Linked DNA regions of Homo sapiens. The protein of the gene in region 1 interacts with the protein of each later gene in a pairwise test. Each region holds a gene or a part of one and is shown in the gene's direction. Other genes may lie near its edges.

Evidence for each region. The genes of interacting proteins can lie anywhere in the genome.
Region 2: the proteins of DCP1B (region 1) and BAG4 interact in binary tests that used the Homo sapiens proteins (3 or more experiments, as listed by UniProt).

The regions. Positions count from the first base shown.
Region 1 is NC_000012.12:1,952,442-1,959,473, reverse strand, and holds part of DCP1B (mRNA-decapping enzyme 1B), read left to right. Parts: intron 1-3,913; coding exon 3,914-4,042; intron 4,043-6,185; coding exon 6,186-7,032. UniProt on the Homo sapiens protein: May play a role in the degradation of mRNAs, both in normal mRNA turnover and in nonsense-mediated mRNA decay. May remove the 7-methyl guanine cap structure from mRNA molecules, yielding a 5'-phosphorylated mRNA fragment and 7m-GDP.
Region 2 is NC_000008.11:38,186,840-38,193,871, forward strand, and holds part of BAG4 (BAG family molecular chaperone regulator 4), read left to right. Parts: intron 1-5,848; coding exon 5,849-5,956; intron 5,957-7,032. UniProt on the Homo sapiens protein: Inhibits the chaperone activity of HSP70/HSC70 by promoting substrate release. Prevents constitutive TNFRSF1A signaling. Negative regulator of PRKN translocation to damaged mitochondria.

The DNA.
Region 1 (7,032 bases):
TATTGGCCACATGTATGTCTTCTTTTGAAAAATGTCCACTCAGGCCCTTTGTCTATATTTTGATCAGAACATTTGTTTTCTTTTCTTACTGTTGAGTTGTTTGAGTTCCTTATCTACTTTGGACATGAATCTCTTATCGTATGTATGTTGTGCAGGTATCTTCCTCCACTCCATAGGTCATCTCTTCACTCTGCTGTTTCCTTTGCTATGCAACAGCCTTGGGTTGGATGTAATCCTGTGTGTCTCTTGCTTTTGTTGCCTGTCCTTAGGGTCACATCGAAAAAGCCATTGCCCAGAGCAACGTTAGGGAGCTTTTCCCCTGTTTCCTTCCAGGAGGTTTATAGAAAAAGTCATTGCCCAGAGCGACGTTGGGGAGCTTTCCCCCTGTTTCCTTCCAGGAGGTTTATAGAAAAAGTCATTGCCCAGAGCAACGTTGGGGAGCTTTCCCCCTGTTTCCTTCCAGGAGGTTTATAGAAAAAGTCATTGCCCAGAGCGACGTTGGGGAGCTTTTCCCCTGTTTCCTTCCAGGAGGTTTATAGAAAAAGTCATTGCCCAGAGCGACGTTGGGGAGCTTTTCCCCTGTTTCCTTCCAGGAGGTTTATAGAAAAAGTCATTGCCCAAAGCGACGTTGGGGAGCTTTTCCCCTGTTTCCTTCCAGGAGGTTTATAGAAAAAGCCATTGCCCAGAGCGACGTTGGGGAGCTTTTCCCCTGTTTCCTTCCGGGAGGTTTATAGAAAAAGTCATTGCCCAGAGCGACGTTGGGGAGCTTTTCCCCTGTCTCCTTCCGGGAGGTTTATGGAAAAAGTCATTGCCCAGAGCGACGTTGGGGAGCTTTTCCCCTGTCTCCTTCCAGGAGGTTTATAGAAAAAGTCATTGCCCAGAGCGACGTTAGGGAGCTTTTCCCCTGTCTTCTTCCAGGAGGTTTATAGAAAAAGCCATTGCGCAGAGCGACGTTAGGGAGCTTTTCCCCTGTCTTCTTCCAGGAGGTTTATAGAAAAAGCCATTGCCCAGAGCGACGTTAGGGAGCTTTTCCCCTGTTTCCTTCCAGGAGGTTTATAGAAAAAGCCATTGCCCAGAGCGACGTTAGGGAGCTTTTCCCCTGTCTTCTTCCAGGAGGTTTATAGAAGAAGCCATTGCCCAGAGCGACGTTAGGGAGCTTTTCCCCTGTCTTCTTCCAGTAGGTTTATAGAAAAAGTCATTACCCAGAGCAACGTTGGGGAGCTTTTCCCCTGTTTCCTTCCAGGAGGTTTATAGAAAAAGTCATTGCCCAGAGCAACGTTAGGGAGCTTTTCCCCTGTTTCCTTCCAGGAGGTTTATAGAAAAAGTCATTGCCCAGAGCGACGTTAGGGAGCTTTTCCCCTGTTTCCTTCCAGGAGGTTCATAGAAAAAGCCATTGCCCAGAGCGACGTTGGGGAGCTTTTCCCCTGTTTCCTTCCAGGAGGTTTATAGAAAAAGTCTGCCCAGAGCGACGTTGGGGAGCTTTTCCCCTGTTTCCTTCCAGGAGGTTTATAGTCTCAGGCCTTACGCTTAAGTCTCTCTAGAATTCTTAAATTTGTGAACATCCCAAGAAGTGGAAGTAGGAAAAATGTTGAGCTATCAGTATATATGATATGGGTAAAGTGAAGTCTGTCTAGTTTACAGGAGGTTAATAAAATAATTTGAAAACTTATTTTGGCTGAAATTTTGTGCATTCTCTTTTGAGAAATAACTTTCTGTGAATCTGCTTTAAAGTAGAAAAGATGTTAATTTGCATTTCATCTCTTTTTATCTCCGCCCTATTCAATTTCTAGTTGAGATGCAAGTGAACAGTAAAATAACCAAATTTTAGTAAGAACAAGAGGCAGGACCAGAAATGATCTACAGGCTGCATAGTTAAGCTTGGAGTATTCAGAAGTGGACTATTTGTGTTTTGTGGTTTAAGACAAGAATTATTGGCTCTTTTCTGGATATAGCTGTGAGTTATTTATGAAATTATAGAAATTTTTTTGTTGAATGATAGAATTCAAAAGAATATAAAAAGAAAAATCACCAATAATCCTATAAACTGAAGATAGAAACTTTTTATACTTTTATTGTATTTTGTTTCAAACATCTCTCTTGGCATAAATACATATGTTTATGTATGTATGTGTTTGTGTGTGATTAAAACTGGATTATATGACATACTTTTTGAGGTTTTATTGTATTTTAACCTCAGCATCCAACAGAGGAAGTTTTTGAAGTTTTAAAGAAATGCCTCAGGTTCTCTGTGAAGAATCCATTATATGCTTTTTCAAAAACTGTTTTTCCCCCCAGGATTTTAAAGATATTTAGGTCGGGAAAAGCATACAAAATTAAACAACTGGAAAATGAGCTACAAACTACTGAGGTGGATGATTAATTCTGAGCACTCTGATAAGAGGGAGCAATTGTTACATAAAAGCAAGGTTTTGTAGGTAGGCAGTTGTAGTGACACAGAAAACAGCTTCTGGAGATAACATTTTAACTAGGAAAAGCTATCAGGCTTATTCATATCAACAGACAAAGCATCCTGTTAGCCCATATGGATATGGGCATAGGGAAGCTGGGAAAAATCTGCCTTTCTTTGCCGGAAATTCAGTGTTTCTGAACATAGAAAAAGAAGAAATACAGAAAGCGTCATTCAAAGAAAGGAAGCATTCACGTTCTTTTAAATAGCAAGGCTTTTCATGCCAAAATTGTGTAAGGGATTAAATGTTAGCCTGTATTCTTGTCTTGTCTTGGTTATCCATGACTTGGGAAAGCCATGCCAGTTGGTCCATGCCGCCATACCCTCATTCACCTAAGAAGAATTGGAAGTAACACTTTATGACTTATAAGGTGATTTTGCATCCCACGTAATACTTGTGCTAAATATACAAATTATTGATAGAATGCCTGGAGGAAGAGAATCTTTTGTATGGTTAACCTCACATACAGTGCATACAGTGGTAATAGATGCCACACCCCCAGATCGTTGGATTAGAGAATACACATTGATAACTGTAAAACACATTGGGAATGCTGGGTTCCTGAGGGACAAGATTGTGTTTATATTTCATTTCATGTCAGGTGTGGAATATTTTGGGGCCTGAGGCCTTGGCTGTACAGTGGAAACAAATGATGCTTCAGAGAGTCTGTAGTACAGAAAGCAGCATTTTATATTGTTTTATTTAGTGTTTTAGCAAACTAGACACCAGTATCATTGCCATGCTCTTTTTGTTATGAATCCTACTGTGTTAGCAATTGCATGGTTGGTTAGATTAATGTATAATAATGAGTCAGTGTTGGAAATGATGAGATTTGTCTCTTGTCTCTTTCTCTACAAAATTCTAATTTGTAGTAAGTAGCTCAGAACGCTCAGATTTGAATTACTCTGTTTATGCAAGAAGTCATTTATTAAATAAAGATGATGTTAGTAATTTTTAAATCAGTGGTTTGAGTCAGCTTTTTGGTTTGTAGACCAAAAAAGATTTAGTTACTTTGATGAAATGTACTCAACTACTCTCCAATTTTAAGTCAACTGCTTAAATTGTCCAGACATGTTATTTAAGGAATGGTTTCTATATTTGTTTATCATTGAAAGACATTAGACTATATATATTTAAACGTATAGTCAATATATTAAGCACAGAACCTTTCAATTATACAGGTGTCTTAAGAACCCCTGGTCCTGGAGGCTGGTGTTGTTAGTAATATTTAGAGCACTGAATTGTCCAACTAAGAAAAATTAAATTTTAACTTGATTTATACTCAAACATAGCTCTTAGAGAAATTTAAGGGATTTTCCTTTGTGCATGAAAATCTATCAAAAACACAGCCGTCTACCAATTAGATAAGAAGTAAAAAGGTAGTCTTTTAAAAAGACTAAAGCTTTTCTAAGCCAAAAATGAGGGGATTTTCTTTTCTATTTCAGTGTAAAACCTGTTCTGAGCCAAAAAAGATAACCAGTTCCTCTGCCATCTATGACAATCCAAATCTCATCAAACCAATTCCAGTGAAACCCAGTGAAAACCAGCAACAGCGTATACCTCAGCCCAACCAGGTACGGAGTTCTCTGCTTGTCATATTCAGTGTGTCTCTAGAATTCTTAAAGAACTTTGACCCAGAATATAGTCAGGGGAGGGCCTGGTGTTGTTGAAGAATGCTTTCAGGTAAACCCAAGAAAGCGGGATTTCAGAATACAGATTTTTTCATTATTAATAACTTACTCTTCCTAGAAGAGGGTTAAAGTTTTTACTTTTGGCATATACCACATTCTGTGCTAATCTCTTGTGAACTTGAACTCCTTAAAAGATAATGTATTTTTTAAAAAACAACAAGCCAGCACAGTGGCTCAAGCCTGTAATCCCAGCACTTTGAGAGGCTGAGGCGAGAGGATCATTTGAGGCCAGAAGTTTGAGAGCAGCCTGGGCAACACAGTGAGACTCCATCTCTACAGGAAAATTAGCCAGGCATGATGGCGTGCACCTGTAGTGCTAGCTGCTCTGGAGGCTGAGGCGGGAGGATCCCTTGAGCTTAGGAGTTTGAGGTTACGGTGAGCTATGGAATGCGCCACTGCACTCCAGCCTGGGCAAGAAAGCAAGACCATGTCTCAGAAAACAAAAACAAACAAACAAGCACCCTAGAAAACTAATAACATTGTCAGAGATGACAGAAACATTACCCATTGGGTCCATATTCTTCTGGGGTGGGTGGCTTCCCAAGGCCACCTGGGAGAACCACCAAGGACACAGAGTTGATTTGAGCACTTCTGAGCACCTCCTCTGTGCCAGATGCAGAGCTAGCACTGTAGACTGGGGTAGCTGCCGCCGAGAGCTCAGAGTCCAAAGGAATGGTATAAAACTCCTCTTCAGATATGATGACTTGTCACTGTCTTTGCAATCTAAATTAGAAATATTACAGCAGCTTTTGTGTTAGTGTATATATATATATATATACACTTCAGAATAGTACAGCAATGACAAAAATTGTCAATCTGTAGGTCCCATTAATGATTGTAAATATAATATTGCTGTGTCATTTTATCATGACTATGACTAATTAAAAAGATTTTCTTAAAGGAATTAGTTTATATCAATTTTGAAAATGAACATGGAGCCAAAAGACATAAAGACTAGTAATGAAAATCTTATATTGAATTTTTAAAGAAAAGAAGTCTTCTAATTTTTTAGCTTTCTTTTTATTGCTTGTTTTATGGAAAGTTTTTATTATATTTTAATAGCGAGACCTGAATATGTTGACTTTAAAATGAAGCTTGTGGTTTTTTTTCTTTCCTCTTTTATTTTTTTTTTTGAGACAGATTTCATTCCTGTTACCCGGGCTGGAGTGCAGTGGCACCATCTCAGCTCACTGCAACTTGTGTCTCCTGGGCTCAAGCAATCCTCCCACCTCAGCCTCCCAAGTAGCTGGGACTACAGGCGTGTGCTGCCACATCTGGCAATTTCTGTATTTTTTGTAGAGATGGGGTTTTGCCATGTTGCCCAGGCTGGTCTTGAACTCCTTAGCTCAAGCAGTCTGCCTGCCTTGGCCTCCCAAAGTGCAGGAATTACAGGCATGAGCCACTGTGCCTAGCCTCATGTTTTCTCAGTGCAACAATGCAGAAAGCAACAGAAGTAAAGAGCAAGAAGGAAGTAGCTTTGTAACTGGCTGGGCCAAGGTAGATTTTATGTATCCAAGGACTTTTTAAATCCTACCAGTATATATTTGAAAGGATCAAGTTAGATTTAAAGTCTTCCGTTTCTTTCCAGCCCTTGATTTCCATAATTCTGTGAAAAACTACTAGAAATTCTGAAATGCTTATATTCCTTTGTATTCTCATATTACTCTGCAGGCTTAGATGGGCTTCCTATTGAACAGATTGTTTATTTTTTTAGTGCATATAATTTCCTACCAAGGTGGTTCCCAATCTGTGAAACCCCAGGCCCTTGAAGATCTTATACCTGTTTTATCGGTCAACAGATATTAAAATATAATAACTGTTTTGGGGGTGCAAGGGGAGCATGCTGTGAAAATTTTTGACATTAAAAAGGGGATCTCATTTTTCAAGTTTATTATTATTATTTTTCATTCTCTCTAATCAATCCTTTGTAAATAGAATAAGTCATCAGATAAGTTATGTTTCATAGCACTTCCTCATATAACCAAATTGTTTGTAGACTCATGTCAGATATCTTTATTTTTTCCAGACCTTAGACCCTGAACCCCAACACTTATCCTTGACAGCTCTGTTTGGGAAGCAGGACAAAGCTACATGTCAGGAAACTGTGGAGCCTCCGCAGACTCTCCACCAGCAGCAGCAGCAGCAGCAGCAGCAGCAAGAGAAGCTTCCAATTAGGCAGGGGGTTGTACGCTCCCTGTCCTATGAGGAACCCAGAAGACACTCACCCCCCATTGAGAAGCAGCTCTGTCCAGCCATTCAGAAACTCATGGTCAGGAGCGCAGACCTCCACCCATTGTCAGAGCTGCCTGAAAACCGGCCTTGTGAAAATGGCAGTACCCATTCTGCGGGAGAATTTTTTACAGGACCTGTCCAGCCAGGGTCTCCTCACAACATTGGAACTTCTCGTGGTGTACAAAATGCTTCCAGAACTCAGAACCTGTTCGAGAAACTTCAGAGTACCCCAGGGGCAGCAAACAAGTGTGACCCTAGTACACCAGCACCTGCCAGCTCAGCTGCCCTGAACCGCAGCAGAGCTCCCACTTCTGTCACCCCTGTGGCTCCAGGAAAGGGTCTGGCTCAGCCACCACAGGCCTATTTCAATGGCTCCCTTCCACCTCAGACAGTAGGACATCAGGCTCATGGAAGAGAACAGTCCACACTCCCAAGACAAACACTCCCCATCTCTGGTAGTCAGACTGGCAGCTCTGGAGTGATCTCCCCTCAAGAGTTACTGAAGAAGCTTCAGATTGTACAGCAGGAGCAGCAGCTGCATGCCTCTAACCGGCCAGCCTTGGCCGCTAAGTTTCCTGTGCTCGCTCAGAGCTCTGGAACAGGGAAACCCTTGGAATCCTGGATCAACAAGACACCCAACA
Region 2 (7,032 bases), on another chromosome or scaffold:
GGCATACCCAAGGCTGTGCCTTCTAATGAGCAATATCACATACTTCATACTTGAAGTTTGAGGGCAAACAGACTTTGCAAAAATAATCCAGCTGGTTACTAAACAAATGAGCAAATGACAATAACAAGCCTAAGGTGGAAAAGGTGGGACCAGTAGTACTCAGAGTTGCTAAAATGTCTAGTTTCCAACAAAGAATTATGAGCTATGCAAAGACACAGGAAAGTATGACCCATACACTGGAAAAAAAGCAGGTAACAGAAACTGATTGTGAAAGTGACCAGATGTCACATTTAATAGACAAAGACTTCAAAGTAGCCATTATATATGTTCAAATAACTAAAAAACTATGATTAAAGAAGCAAAGAAAGGTGTGTGATAATGTCATGTCAAATAGGGAATATCAATAAAGAGATAGCAATTATATATTAAAAAAGAAACAAATAGAAATTCTGGAGTTGAAAAGTACAGTAACTAAAATGAAAAATTAACTAGAGGAGTTCAATAGGCTAGAACTGACAGAAGAAAGAATTCATGAATTTGAAGATAGATCAATACAGATTATGCAATATGAAGGAGAGAAAAAAGACTGATGTGTTGGAGAAGTGTCAGACACCATTGAACACACCAGCATATCAGAAATGATTAATAACAAGGTTAATATAACAAAAGATGCAAATATGCTCTTTTCTTCTCAGATTCTTTAAAAGACATTATATAAAGTAATAAGTATAACAATATAATGTTGAGTTTGTAACATTTGTAGACATAATGTGGATTACAATAAAATCACAAAAAAGGGGAAAAGGAACAGACTTATATAGGAATAGCATTCCTGTATCTCACTGGAATTAAGTTGGTATAAATCAGAAGCTGATTCTGATGAGAAGCATATTGTTAGCCCAGCTGGGTGCTGTGGCTCACGCCTGTAATCCCAGCAATTTGGGAGGCCAAGGTGGGCAGATCACAAGGTCAGGAGATCGAGACCATTCTGGCTAACATGGTGAAACCTTGTCTGTACTAAAAATACAAAAAAAAAAAAAAAAAAAAATTAGCCGGGCGTGGTGGCGGGCGCCTGTAGTCCCAGCTACTTGGGAGGCTGAGGCAGGAGAATGGCATGAACCCGGGAGGCGGAGCTTGCAGTGAGCCGAGATCGTGCCACTGCACTCCAGCCTGGGTGATAGAGTGAGACTCCGTCTCAAAAAAAAAAAAAAAAAAAAAAGGAAGAAGAAGAAGTGTATTGTTAGCCCAAGAGTAACTGCTAAAGAAAAAAAAAGTATAATCATTAAGTTATAATGCTACATTTGAAAATATTCACTTAATGCAAAAGAAAGCAGTAAAGGTGGAATAAAGGACAAAAACACATGAGACATATAAAAAACAAAAAGTAAAAATAAAACATGTAAATCCAGCTATATCAATAATATTAAATGTGCATGGATTAAGCAATCTAGTCAGAAGACAGACTGGATTAAAAAAAAAACAAGATCCAATTATATGGTGTCTAAAGGTGGCACACTTAAGGTTTAAAGATACAAATAGTTTGAAAGTAAATGGATGGAAAAAGAAATATAATGCAATAAAGAAAAGATAAATGTTTGAGGTGTCAGATATGCCAGTTACCCTGTTTTGATCATTACACTTTATATACATGTATCAAAATATCACATGTATCCCAAAAATATGTACTACTTTTATTAATTAAAAATTACATATATGCACATATAAATACATATATATACGTGTATACACATATATATATGCATGTATACATATATATACATGTACACATATATATACATATATACATGTATACATATATACATGTATACATATACATGTATACATATATACATGTATACATATATATGTATATATATATAAAAATATGCAAAAGGCAACTATGAGAAAGCTGGAGTGGCTACTTTAATATCAGCTTTTTATTTACTTTTTATTTATTTATTTGTTTATCTTTGAGATGGAGCCTTGCTCTGTCACCCAGGCTGGAGTGCAGTGGCACGATCTTGGCTCACTGCAACCTCCGCCTCCCAGGTTCAAGCAATTTTCCTGCCTCAACCTCCCAAGTAGCTAGGACTACGGGTGTGTGCCACCATGCCCGGCTAATTTTTTTTTTTTTTTTGAGATGGAGTCTCACCCTGTTGCCCAGGCTGGAGTGCAGTGGTGCAATCTCAGTTCACTACACCTCTGCTTCCTGGGTTCAAGCAATTCTCGTGCCTCAGCCTCCTGAGTAGCTGCCCGCCACCACACCCAGCTCATTTTTGTATTTTATTAGAGACGAGGTTTCACCATGTGGGCCCGGCCGGTCTTGAACTCCTGACCTCAAGTGACCCACCCACCTCGGCCTCCCAAAGTGTTGGGATTACAGACGTAAGCCACCATGCCAGGCCTGAATTATATACTTTAAATAGGTGAATTGGATGGTAGTGAGTAAAACTTGAAAATAAGAATACCAGTTTTATGAGTAACAACTAATGGATGCAGTTTCGGTTTCTTTGCAGTTCAGCTTGTCCTTAGAGAATAAATTCCACTGAGGACGTACAGTCAAAATAACGTGAGCTAAAAGTCATTTGAAGTAATTCTTTTTTCTCTGTGGTTATGTTACCAACTTGATTGTTAGTTATTGCATTAATTGACTTTTCCTATACTGAAACAACAATTCCAGAATTTTAGTAGCTTATAATGATAAACATTTATTTCTTGCTCAGGTTCTGTGAGTCCACTCTAGTGGTTCTTCTCTAGGCCCCAGGTTCAGTTCAGGTCTACCTGTGTGTCTTCTCATCCTGGGACTTCAGTTGAAAACACAGCTCCCATATAAGATAATGTAGGTCTTGTGGAGGGCATGGGAACACAAGAGGGTTGCTAGAATTTGCAGCGACTCCTAAATCCTTTGTGTGGACTGGCACACTGTCACTTTTATCCATATTTGTTTGTTTTGCATAAAAGGTTAAATTACGTTTTGTTGTTGTTGTTGTTGTTTTGAGACGGAGTCTCCCTCTGTTGCCCAGGCTGGAGTGCAGTGGCGTGATCTAGGCTTGCTGCAAGCTCCGCCTCCCAGGTAGCTGGGACTACAGGCGCCCGCCACCACACCTGGCTAATTTTTTGTATTTTTAGTAGAGATGGGGTTTCACCGTGTTAGCTAGGATGGTCTCTATCTCCTGACCTCGTGATCCACCTGCCTTGGCCTCCCAAAGTGCTGGGATTACAGGTGTGAGCCGCTGCACCCAGCCAAATTATGTTTTTTACTTATGTGAGTTTGTAATGACACCACCACATTCACTATCCCCCAGTTCTTCCTCATTTTGCCCCATTCCATATTTTATCTTTCCTTGTCCTCGTGACAATATCGGTTCCCAATAACACTACTGTATGTATTTATTCTATTCTACAATACACACAATATAGTTTAAAAATTAAGATAGTAATATCACTACTAATAACATTATATGAAGAGTTTAAGATATTTTTAAATTTCTTTTGCTTTTAGAAAGGTACCACTAAAGATGTCCATTCAGAAAACTGTTCAAGAATTATTTGAATTATATTCTGTGTGTGGTTATCAAGTCAGTAGGTTTTTTCTTTTTAAAGATGGGGTCTTACTCTGTTGCCCAGGCTGGAGTGCAGTAGCACAATCATAGATCATAGCTCACCATAACCTTGAATTTCTGGACTTTGCCTCTGCCTCTCACCTCTCAGCCTCCTGAGTAGCTGGGACTATAGGCACCCATCATCACGCCCACCTGACATTTTTTTTTTTTTTTTTGGGTAAAGACTGAGTCTCATTATTTTCCAGGCTGGTCTTGAACTCCTGGTCTCTGGCCCCAAGCAATCCTCTTGCCTCAGCTACCCAAAGTGCTGGGATTACAGATTGAGCCACTGCGCCCAGCCCAAGTTGGTGGGTTGTCTTTTTTTTTTTTTTTGAGACGGAGTCTCTGCTCTGTGGCCCAGGCTGGAGTGCAGTGGCATGATCTCTGCTCACTGCAACTTCTGTCTCCTGGGTTCAAGCTATTCTCGTGCCTCAGCTTCCTGAGTAGCTGAGATTACAGGCACCCACCACCACACCCAGCTAATTTTTGTATTTTTAGTAGAGACGGGGTTTCACCGTGTTGGCCAGGCTGGTCTCGAACTCCTGACCTCAGGTGATCCACCCGCGTCAGGCCTCCCAAAGTGGTGGGATTACAGGCGTGAGCCACTGTGCCTGGCCAAGTTGGTGGTTTTTTAAAGAAGATAAAATACAGTTTGAATTCATACTGATATTTACAATTCAAATTAAGGATTATAAGGTTTTAAGTTTCATTATTCTTATATCTGTGTCTCCTATCTCCCATTGTGAAAATACTGATTCCCAACAATACCAATGTAAGTATTCATTTGCAACTATAATACCCGCATAACAGTACCAAGATAACAAACAGTACCAACAGTGTTGATAATTATGATTACTGAAAAAAATTCAAAGTATTACTGAAAACAAAGTATTATGAAATGGATAAGTAGTGCAGTTAAGCTAATAGTGATAATCTCTCAGTTATTTCAGCTGCCAATGAATTTCTTTGTGAAATCATATTCAAAGTTTTAGAAAAAATGTCGAAGGTCCTGTTCAAGCTTAAAACTATACTTGGGCGGGCACAGTGTGGCTCACGCCTGTAATTCCAGCACTTTGGGAAGCCAAGCCGGGTGGATCTCCTGAGGTCAGGAGTTCAAGACCAGCCTGGCCAAAATAGTGAAACCCGGTCTCTACTAAAAGTACAAAAAATTAGCTGGGCGTGGTGGCAGGTGCCTGTAATCCCAGCTATTCAGGAGGCTGAGGCAGGAAAATTGCTTGAACTTGGGAAGCGGAGGTTGCAGTGAGCCGAGATCGTGCCATTGCACTCCAGCCTGGGCAACAAGAGCGAAACTCTGTCTCAAAAAAAAAAAAAAAAAAAAAACCCTAAATCTATACAGTTGAAAGCAAAATAACTCATAGGATAATAAATGTATGTAATAAACCAGATAATAGGTGCTCTGAGAAGTTTTGAGTATATTTAGTCTTTTATCAAAGTTTATTGGCTTATTGCAAATCATGCGTTAACTTTCTGAGTTGGAGAGAAAGGCTGATGAAATTATTGTCGTAGCTAGATTTTCTCTTTGGATTGGTAAATGTTCTGCATCAATGCCTGACACTGAGGCTGCCAGCGGAAAGCTTAGCCATAGCACAGAGTAGAATATGAAAAACTAGGGTGTGTCAAGGCAAAGAAGTTGGAGATTGAAGATGTATGTGCTTGAGCGAAACTCTAGTAGTAATGTCTTTGTGTTCCAAAGTTATTGGTAAATATAACAGTAGCAAAGAACCATTTTGTTGCACTAATTAAATTAGTAGTCTTGAGGATTAGTTATTGGAGAAGGATAGAGGTGATCTAATGTCTCTGATTTTGCTAATCATCTTGATGTAGTAGAATTCCTTTATATAGCATTTGGTGTGGTGGCATTGTCGAAACAGATAAGAACAGCTTTTTACTAGGTAATAATTGTTTTGTCATAGAGCATTTGATTTACCATGTACTGAATAATTAGCAGTTTTATAGTTGGGGTCCTATTCCCTTTTTTCTTTTATTTTTTGTTTTTAAGAGACGGGGTCTCTCTTGACCATACTAGACTCAATCACCTGAGCTCAAGCGATCCACCCACCTCAGCCTCCGCAGTAGTGGGACAAGAAGCGTGTGCCACTGTGCCCAGCTTATTGCTTTTTGTCTATTGCTTTTTTTTTTAATCCTTATAACCTGCCTCTATCAATCTATCTTAAAATGATGTATGAATGTTATTAAGAGTGAATTTATTTTTCTTTTTTTCTTAGGAGCAGCCACCATATCCTAGCTACAATTCTAACTATTGGAATTCTACTGCGAGATCTAGGGCTCCTTACCCAAGTACATATCCTGTAAGACCAGAATTGCAAGGCCAGGTATGGTTTAAAAACAGAGACTTTCTGAACTTTTTCTTAATGAATAGATTTATTTTCAAAACCTGTGCAGATTTTAGAGCAGTGATGAGTGTGTGTTTTTTTTCTTTGCTTTAATGGGCTCCATCAATCTCATCTTAATGTTTTTAGCTCAGAGATAAGGAAATATCTAGGCAAATATACCTATAGCTTGAGGCATAATAAATTATTTTCCAGGACCCAGAAGGAACAAACATAAAATATACTTATTTTTGAAAACTTTACTGATTACAGACATTTAATTTAAAATATTTTAAAATTATAAAAAGTACAGAAAATATATACATTTTAAATCTAGCATGCAGGGCTGGGTGCAGTGGCTCACAGCTGTAATCCCAGCACTTTGGGAGACCAAGGCAGGCAGATCACCTGAGGTTAGGAGTTCAAGACCAGCCTGGCCAACATGGTGAAACTCCATCTCTACTAAAAATACAAAAATTAGCTGGGTGTGGTGGTGGGCGCCTGTACTCCCAGCTACTCGGGAGGCTGAGGCAGGAGAACCGCCTGAACCCAGGAGGCGGAGGTTGCAGTGAGCTGAGATCACACCATTACACTCCAGCCTGGGCGACGAGTGAGACTCCGTCTCAAAACAAAAAACAAACAAAAAAACCCCACGAAAATCTAGCATGCAGATTTGTCAATTTCTGTTTGCCACATTTGTTTCAGATTTTTAAGAAAGAAGTAAACCAAATACAATTGAAGCCCAATGACACTTCTTTTCATTTACTGAAATTTTATTTATTTATTTATTTGAAACAGGGTCATTTTCTGTTGCCCAGGCTGGAGTGCAGTGGTATGATCTCAGCTCACTGCACCCTCCTCCTCACAGGTTCAAGTGATTCTCCTGCCTCAGCCTCCTGAGTAGCTGGGACTACAGGCACACACCACCATACCCAGCTAATTTTTTGATTTTTTTTTTTTTTTTTGAGATGGAGTCTTGCTCTGTCGCCAGGCTGGAGTGCAGTGGCATGATCTTGGCTCATTGCAGCCTCCGCCTCCTGGGTTCAAGTGATTCTCCTGCTTCAGCCTCCCAAGTAGCT